Homo sapiens: one gene and its partner. The protein of the gene in region 2 purifies or fractionates together with the protein of the main gene of each other region. This does not show direct contact. Each region holds a gene or a part of one and is shown on either strand. Other genes may lie near its edges. The genes, in order: SS18L1 and BCL7B.

The links.
Region 1: the proteins of BCL7B (region 2) and SS18L1 purify together in Homo sapiens (affinity purification with mass spectrometry, with the first as the bait; one large-scale study listed by BioGRID). This does not show direct contact.

Annotation. Positions count from the first base shown.
Region 1 is NC_000020.11:62,164,159-62,167,970, reverse strand, and holds part of SS18L1 (calcium-responsive transactivator), read right to left. Parts: coding exon 3,725-3,812; intron 2,550-3,724; coding exon 2,457-2,549; intron 1-2,456. UniProt on the Homo sapiens protein: Transcriptional activator which is required for calcium-dependent dendritic growth and branching in cortical neurons. Recruits CREB-binding protein (CREBBP) to nuclear bodies.
Region 2 is NC_000007.14:73,547,567-73,551,378, forward strand, and holds part of BCL7B (B-cell CLL/lymphoma 7 protein family member B), read right to left. Parts: intron 1-3,812. UniProt on the Homo sapiens protein: Positive regulator of apoptosis. Plays a role in the Wnt signaling pathway, negatively regulating the expression of Wnt signaling components CTNNB1 and HMGA1.

The DNA of each region.
Region 1 (3,812 bases), on a different chromosome or scaffold from region 2:
GGTGGTGCATGCCTTTAGTCCCAGCAATTCGAGAGGCTGAAGCAGGAGGATCACTTGAGCCTGGGATTTCCAGGCTGCAGTGTGCCACGATCAGGCCACTGCACTCCAGCCTAGGTGATAGGGCAAGACCCTGTCTCTTTAAAAAAAAAAAAAAAGTAGCTACATCAGACACTAAAAGGCTGAGCAGCACATCCTGCGTTTGTTTTTGGGACAAAGTGTGGCAGCCTTGGGCAGACGCATGTGGACACCTCGCCATGGACAAGGCTGAACCCTGTGCTCCAGCTGGAAGGGACAGGGCCAGGCCCATGATGGCAGAGATCCTGCTGACTCCCAGGGCTTACGGAGGCACCACTGCAGCCAATATGCCAGAAGATAGCCTCTGGGTGCTGGCCACAGGGTGGCTTTTGTTTTGAGACAGGGTCTGGCTCGGTCACCCAGGCTGGAGTGCTGTAGTGCAATCTCAACTCACTGCAACCTCTGCCTCTGGGTTCAAGCGATTCTCCCACCTCAGCCTCCTGAGTAGCTGGGATTACAGGTACCCGCCACCACGCCCGGCATTTTTTTTTTTTTTTTCGGGAGAGAAAGGGTTTTGCCATGTTGCCCATGCTGGCCTCAAACTCCTGAGCTCGGCCGGGCGCGGTGGCTCACGCCTGTAATCCCAGCACTTTGGGAGGCTGAGGCAGGTGGATCATGAGGTCAGGGGTTCGAGACCAGACTGACCAACATGATGAAACCCCATCTCTACTGAAAATACAAAAATTAGCTGGGTGTGGTGGCGGGGCCTGTAATCCGAGCTACTCAAGAGGCTGAGGCAGGAGAATTGCTTGAACCTGGGAGGCGGAGGTGGCAGTGAGCCAAGATCATACCACTGCACTCCAGCCTCGGCGACAGAGTGAGACTCCGTCTCAAAAAAAAAAAAAAAAAAAAACAAACAAACTCCTGAGCTCAAGCAATCCTCCTCCACTGGCCTCCCAAAGTGCTGGGATTACAGGCGTAAGCCACCATGCCTGGCCATTTCTTTTTTTTATTTCTTTTTATTTTTTTTGAGACAAAGTTTCACTCTTGTTGCCCAGGCTGGAGTGCAATGGCATGATCTCAGCTCACTGCAACCTACACCTCCCGGGTTCAAGCAATTCTCCTGCCTCAGCCTCTTGAGTAGCTCAGATTACAGGCACATGCCACCACGTCCAACTAATTTTTGTATTTTTAGTAGAGACGGGGTTTCACCGTGTTGGCCAGGCTGGTCTCAAACTCCTGACCTCAGGTGATCCACCCACCTCAGCTTCCTAAAGTGCTGGGATTATAGGCGTGAGCCACAACACCTAGGCTCTTTCTTCTTTTAAACTTTCATTATGTATTCATGTACTTTTTGTTTCCCCCAGGTTTACAAAGGTGTAACTGACATTTCAACGTTGCAGGCATTCGTAGCGCACACCGTGATGTTTCTATATGTGCCTACACTTGCGTGCTTTATTTCTTCACAGCAGGCTGAGATGTGTAAGCTCAGAAGCAAAACCTTTACACATCCAATTCTTTAAGAAGTAACCCAAACAAGGAAATCTGTAGCCGTTTAGTGCCTGCCTGCTTTGTGTACCTGGTGAAGCCTCACCAACACTGTTACCTCTTGATAAATTGCAGCCCTGCAGTGGGAAGGCCTCAGCCACTGCTGCCTGCCGGTCAGCGTCAGCAGACACGAGGCCCCTCTCCCCAGGGACTGCAGGCCCGCCTTCCCTCCCGGACGAGGTTGCGCAATCCCGCAGGCGATCATCAGCTCTTCTCTGGGGGCCATCTTTATCCCGGGGTGGGACTGGAACGGGCTGTGTGTACCTCTTCCCAACTCCACATTCTGGGATGTTCTGTTGGGGTTTCAGGGCAGCCAGGGTGGGGGCACAGACACCACAGAAAGGGGCAAGTCCACCCGACACGCAGCCCCCAGCGCAGCACTGCCCAGGACCGCCATGAAGGGCGGCAAGCCCCCAGCCACAGATGTGCGTTTCCTGGCCTGCAGGTGTCTGAAGAAACGCGAGGCCACACCCAGCGCAGCCACTGCTGGCCTCCAGCTGAGGAAGCTCTGAGAGTGGCTCGCAGGCCCCACGATCCCTGGCCAGACCCAATAACAGAGTCTGTGTCCCCAACCCCAGCATGGCCGGCTGAATCCTTCCTGTCGCAGGCCCCACGCTCCCTGGCTGGACCCAATAACCAAGTCTGTGCCCCCAACCCCAGCATGGCCGGCTGAATCCTTTCCTGTCTCACGAACACACCCATAAGGCAAGCGGGGCTCCCGACACAGCCTGAATTTCCAGCTTCCAGAACACACTGTCTCTCCTCCCACGCGCTGTGCTGTGATTTAAGGGACTCACTGAAGGCAGGCACCGCGTGCTCCTAAGGGTGCAGCGTCTTAACTCTGCTGCGTGTGGCGCTTACGCTCGAGCCCAGCACGCAGCCGTGCTCCTTACCCCCCTCATAGTAGTGCTGCGTGGACTCCTCGAAGGACCGGTCGTAGCTCTGCTCCGTGTAGGATGACTGCTGGTAGGCGTAATCGCCATGGCCTGTGCGAAACGGAGACGGCGACAGTCAGCGGAGGCTGTGCACTGCACAGGTCCCGGAGGAGGCAACTGAGACCCAGGCTGGGGAGATGTTGTCTGGCCAGGGAGGCAACAAGAGCCGGCAGGACCCGTGTTCCCCAAAACCATGCCCCAACCTCCTGAGCCTCGGCCTCCCCACTGAAATGCAGACATCAATGCCTCCTTCTCGGGGCGACTGTGAAGCTACCTGGGGATTTATGCAGAGGATCAGCGCTTTCAGTGCCTGCCACACAGCCATGCTAGTGACCCGACTGCCTTCTCCCCGCCACCGCTAGCTCCTGGGAGGACGCAGGCAGGGGTGTCCAACCCTTACCGAGGCCTTCGCTGCATGTGACCATCACGTGGCCAGGGTGGCTTGCCCTGCTGCCACCTGCCCACCTGTCTGTGCACCTGCCCCTTGCTGGCTGAGGCCAGCTCCCTGCCTGGATGCCTCCCAGGGATCAATCCAGCCTTTAAGACCACTTTATTTTATTGTTATTTTTACTTTATTTAGAGACAGGATCCTGCTCTGTCACCAAGGCTGGAGTGTGGTGGTGCGATCATGGCTCAATGCAGCTTCAACCTCCTGGGCTGAAGCGATCCTCCTGCCTCAGCCTCCCAAAGTGCCGGAATGACAGGTGTGAACCGCTGTTTTCAGCCAAGACCACTTTCAGTATCCCTTCCACAAGCCCTGGGACTATGCAAAGACTGAAAGGTGACGACGGTAAAATACTCTGCAGAGATGAGAAGGTGCAGGAGGAGAGGTGCTGCAGGTGGAGCCGTCACCTTCAGGGCATTCTCTGTGAAGCTGGGAGGCGCCTTCTTGAACATTTCCACCTATCTACAGCTAGGAGCTACAATTATCCGCCTCCAACTCCCACAGCCTTTCAGGAAGTAGAGGCAAGGCCGCGTGGAGGCCAGTGCAGCGGTGTGTGCCACAGCTTCTCTCTGCAGAGGCCAGGCACCACTGCCAGCCCAGCTCACCCCATCCCCTACCTTGCTCCTGCAGGGCGTCTGGCCACTCTGCCTGTAGCCCAGGCCTGAGCTGGAATGACTGAGGACACACTGCAGTGGCCACACCCTCCTTGCCCTCCTTGCCCTCCTTGCCCCTGCAGCTGCTCTGCGTTCCTGGGCGGGGTCAGGCCGCCGCCAGTGCTCACCGTCGGGGTAGTACTGCTGGCCCATGGGCTCCGCGGCGCCCTGGCTGTGGCTGTACTGCTCGCCATAGTACTCCTCCTGGCCCAGGTA
Region 2 (3,812 bases):
AAGACTCAAGCATGGGAATAACATCACATTTCTTAACAGCGACACTGGATGTACAATTCAGTAATAGCTTCAAAGTGCTGAAAGAAAATAATTTTGAACCTAGAATTTCATATACAGGTAAAATCATCAATTTTCAACATGAAAGTGAAACAAAGATATTTTCAGAAAGTTTTCCCCACAGAAGCTCTCTTTGACAAAACTCTTGAAGGATGTATTCTAGCAAAAAGAAAAACAAATGTAGGAGAAAACAGTAAGAAGTCGGTGCATGAGGCTGAGCACAGTGGTTCACACCTGTTACCCCAGCACTTTGGGAGGCCTAGATGGGCAAATCACTTGAGGTCAGGAGTTCAACACCAGCCTGGCCAACATCATGAAACCCCGTCTCTACCAAAAAATACAAAAATTAGGCTGGGTGTGGCAGCATGCACCTGTAGTTTCAGCTACTGGGAGGCTAGGCACCAGAACTGCTTGCACCCAGGAGGCGGAGGCTGCAGTGAGCCAAGATTACGTCACTGCACTCCAGCCTCAGAGTGACACCCTGTCTCAAAAAAAAAAATGTAGGTGCATGAAATTTTAGGCGAGCCTGGGCGCAGTGGCTCACGCCTGTAATCCCAGCACTTCGGAAGGCGGAGGTGGGCAGAACACGAGCTCAGGAGATCAAGACCATCCTGGCCAACATGGTAAAACCCTGTCTCTACTAAAAATACAGAAATTAGCCGGGCCTGGTGGTGTGTGCCTGTAATCCCAACTACTCTGGAGGCTGAGGCAGGAGAATTGCTTGAACCCGGGAGGCAGAGGTTGCAGTGAGCTTAGATCGCACCACTGTACTCCAGACTGAGCAACAGAGTGAGACTCTGTCTCGAAAAAACAAAACAAAATAAGGAAACAACAACAACAAAAATTAGCTGGATGTGGTGGCATGTGACTGTAGTCCCAGCTACTCAGGAGGCTGAGGTGGGAGGATCACTGGAGCCCAGGAGACAAAAGTAGAAGTAAACCGAGATTACATCACTGCATTCCAGCCTGGGCGACAGATTGAAACCGTGTCTTACAAAATAATAATAATAATAAAAAAAGGAGCAGGCCGGGCACAGTGGCTCACGCCTGTAATCCCAACACTTTGGCAAGCCGAGGCGGGCGGATCACCTGAGATCGGGAGTTGAAGACCAGCCTGACCAACATGGAGAACCCTAGTCTCTACTAAAAATACAAAATTAGCCAGATGTGGTGGCGCATGCCTGTAATCCCAGCTACTTGGGAGGCTGAGGCAGGAGAATCGCTTGAAACCAGGAGGCAGAGGCTGCAGTGAGCCGAGATTGCGCCACTGCACTCCAGCCTAGTCAAGAGAAGCGAAATTCCGTCTCAAAAAAACAAACAAACAAACAAAAAAAACTCCAAAAAACAAAACTCCTGTTTCTGGTGGGAATATAAATTGGTACAACTACCATTTCAGCAAATAGTTTAGCATCAGCTAATATAGGTCAAAACATACATACCCTAAGACCCAGCCACTTCCCTTCCAAGAATATATCCTAGGAAAACTCATGTACATGTTGATGTGGATTCTGAACAAGAATGCTCACAGGGGCATTGTTCCTATTGGCCCTAACTGTGGACAACCTCAATATCTACAGGAGAACCAGAAAAATAAACTACACTTAGCCATGTGATGAATATGCAGCAAAATACAGCAGAGAGAGCAATGGAAAGGAATGGGTAACTCCAAGGACAACATGGATGCATTTTACAAACATAATGCTGAGCAAAAGAAACAAGACACACGAAAATAGATACTTTATCATGCTGTTTCCATAACACTCAAAATGTTAGAGGCTGGTGCAGTGGCACATGCCTGTAATCCCAGCTATTTGGGAGGCTGAGATAAGATCCCTTGAGCCCAAAAGTTCAAATCCAGCCTGGGCAACAATGAGACCCCCCACCATCTCTAAAAAAGGAAAAAGCGTGGGTACGATGGCTCATGCCTAAAATCCCACCACTTTGGGAGGCCGAGGTGGGAAGATCATTTGATCCCAGGAATTTGAGACCTATCAGCCTAGGTTGACATAGCAAACTCCCATCTCTCCAAAACAAACAAAAAAAAGAAAGAAAAAAAATTAGCTGGGCATGATGGCATATGCCTGTGGTCCCAGCTTCTCAGGAGGCTGAGGTGGGAGGATTGCTTGAGCCTGGGAGGTCAAGGCTCCAGTGAGCTGAGATCATGACACTGCACTCCAGCTTCGGTGACATAGTGAGATTTTGTCTCTGGAAAAAAAATCTCAAAAATAATAATAAAGGAAAAACTGTTTATGAATGACTAGACAAGTGGTAAGAAAAGCAAAAGTAGGAGAGTCATTACCTTTAGAGGGACAGGAGGAAGAGGATGGGAAGAGCTGCAGAGAGGTCTGCTGGGGTCTTGGCAAAGCTGTGTTTTGCAGAGTGGTTCTCACAAGAGTGTTAGCTTTATATTTATTCATACACTGTACATTTATGTTTTATATACTTCTCTGTATGTGTTTTATATTTGAAAATTTAAAAAACAATTAGAAAAAATAAAGTTGGAAACAATCTGGGTATTTATCACCCAGAAAATATGTAGATAAAGGTACTCACTGCAAATAAGAAAATGCAATGCATGAGTCAAAGGTAATAATTCTATTTATATTTACAGATACATGGAGGGTTCTCAAAACAAGGTTGGGCCAGGCACGGTGGTTCATGCCTGTCATCCCAGCACTTTGGGAGGCCAAGGCAGGCGGATTACTTGAGGTCAGGAGTTTGGGACCAACCTGGCCAACATGGTGAAACCCGTCTCTACTTAAAATAGAAAAATTAGCCAGGCGTGGTGGCAGGCGCCTGTAATCCCAGCTGCTCAGGAGGCTGAGGCAGGAGAATTGCTTGAACCTGGGAGGCAGAGGTTGTAGTGAGCTGAAATTGCACCATTGCACTCCAGCCTGGCGACAGAGCGAGAGTCCGTCTCAAAAAAACAAAAAAGCAAAAAACCCCAAATTAAAAAACCAAAGTTGAACCACAGAGAATACAAAGAGGTTCTGGCAAAATACTGTACATATTTTTTTTTTGTTTTTTTTTTGTTTGTTTGTTTGGTTTTTTTGAGATGGAGTCTCACTCTGTCGCCCAGGCTGGAGTGCAGTGGTGCGATCTCGGCTCACTGCAAGCTCCGCCTCCTGGGTTCACACCATTCTCCTGCCTCAGCCTCCCGAGTAGCTGGGACTACAGGCGCCCACCACCATGCCCGGCTAATTTTTTGTACTTTTAGTAGAGACGGGGTTTCACCATGTTAGCCAGGATGGTCTCGATCTCCTGACCTCGTGATCCGCCCGTCTCGGCCTCCCAAAGTGCTGGGATTACAGGCGTGAGCCACCACGCCCGGCCCACATATTTAAGTTTTGTTTAAACACAAAAATACACATATGAAACAATGCTATGTATTTTTAAAGAATATACAGGTATCCAAATACATCCAACAAAGATGAAGCACAAAGGTCTACACCAGAATTAGAAAGATGTATATACATATGATACACACAATACAGTGGGGGACTAATCGCATAAGAGCAAGTATCAGCAAACTTTTTCTTAAAGGGTCAGATGATAAATATTTTAGGTTTTACGGGCCATTTGGCCTTATGGCAACCACTCAATCTGCCACTGTAATTCAAAAGCACCACAGACAATAAGGAAATCAGTGGGCATACTTATGTGTTTGGTTTTTTTTGTTTGTTTGCTTATTTTCGAGATGGTGTGTCACACTGTTGCCCAGGCTGGAGTGCAGTGGCGGGATCTTGGCTCACTGC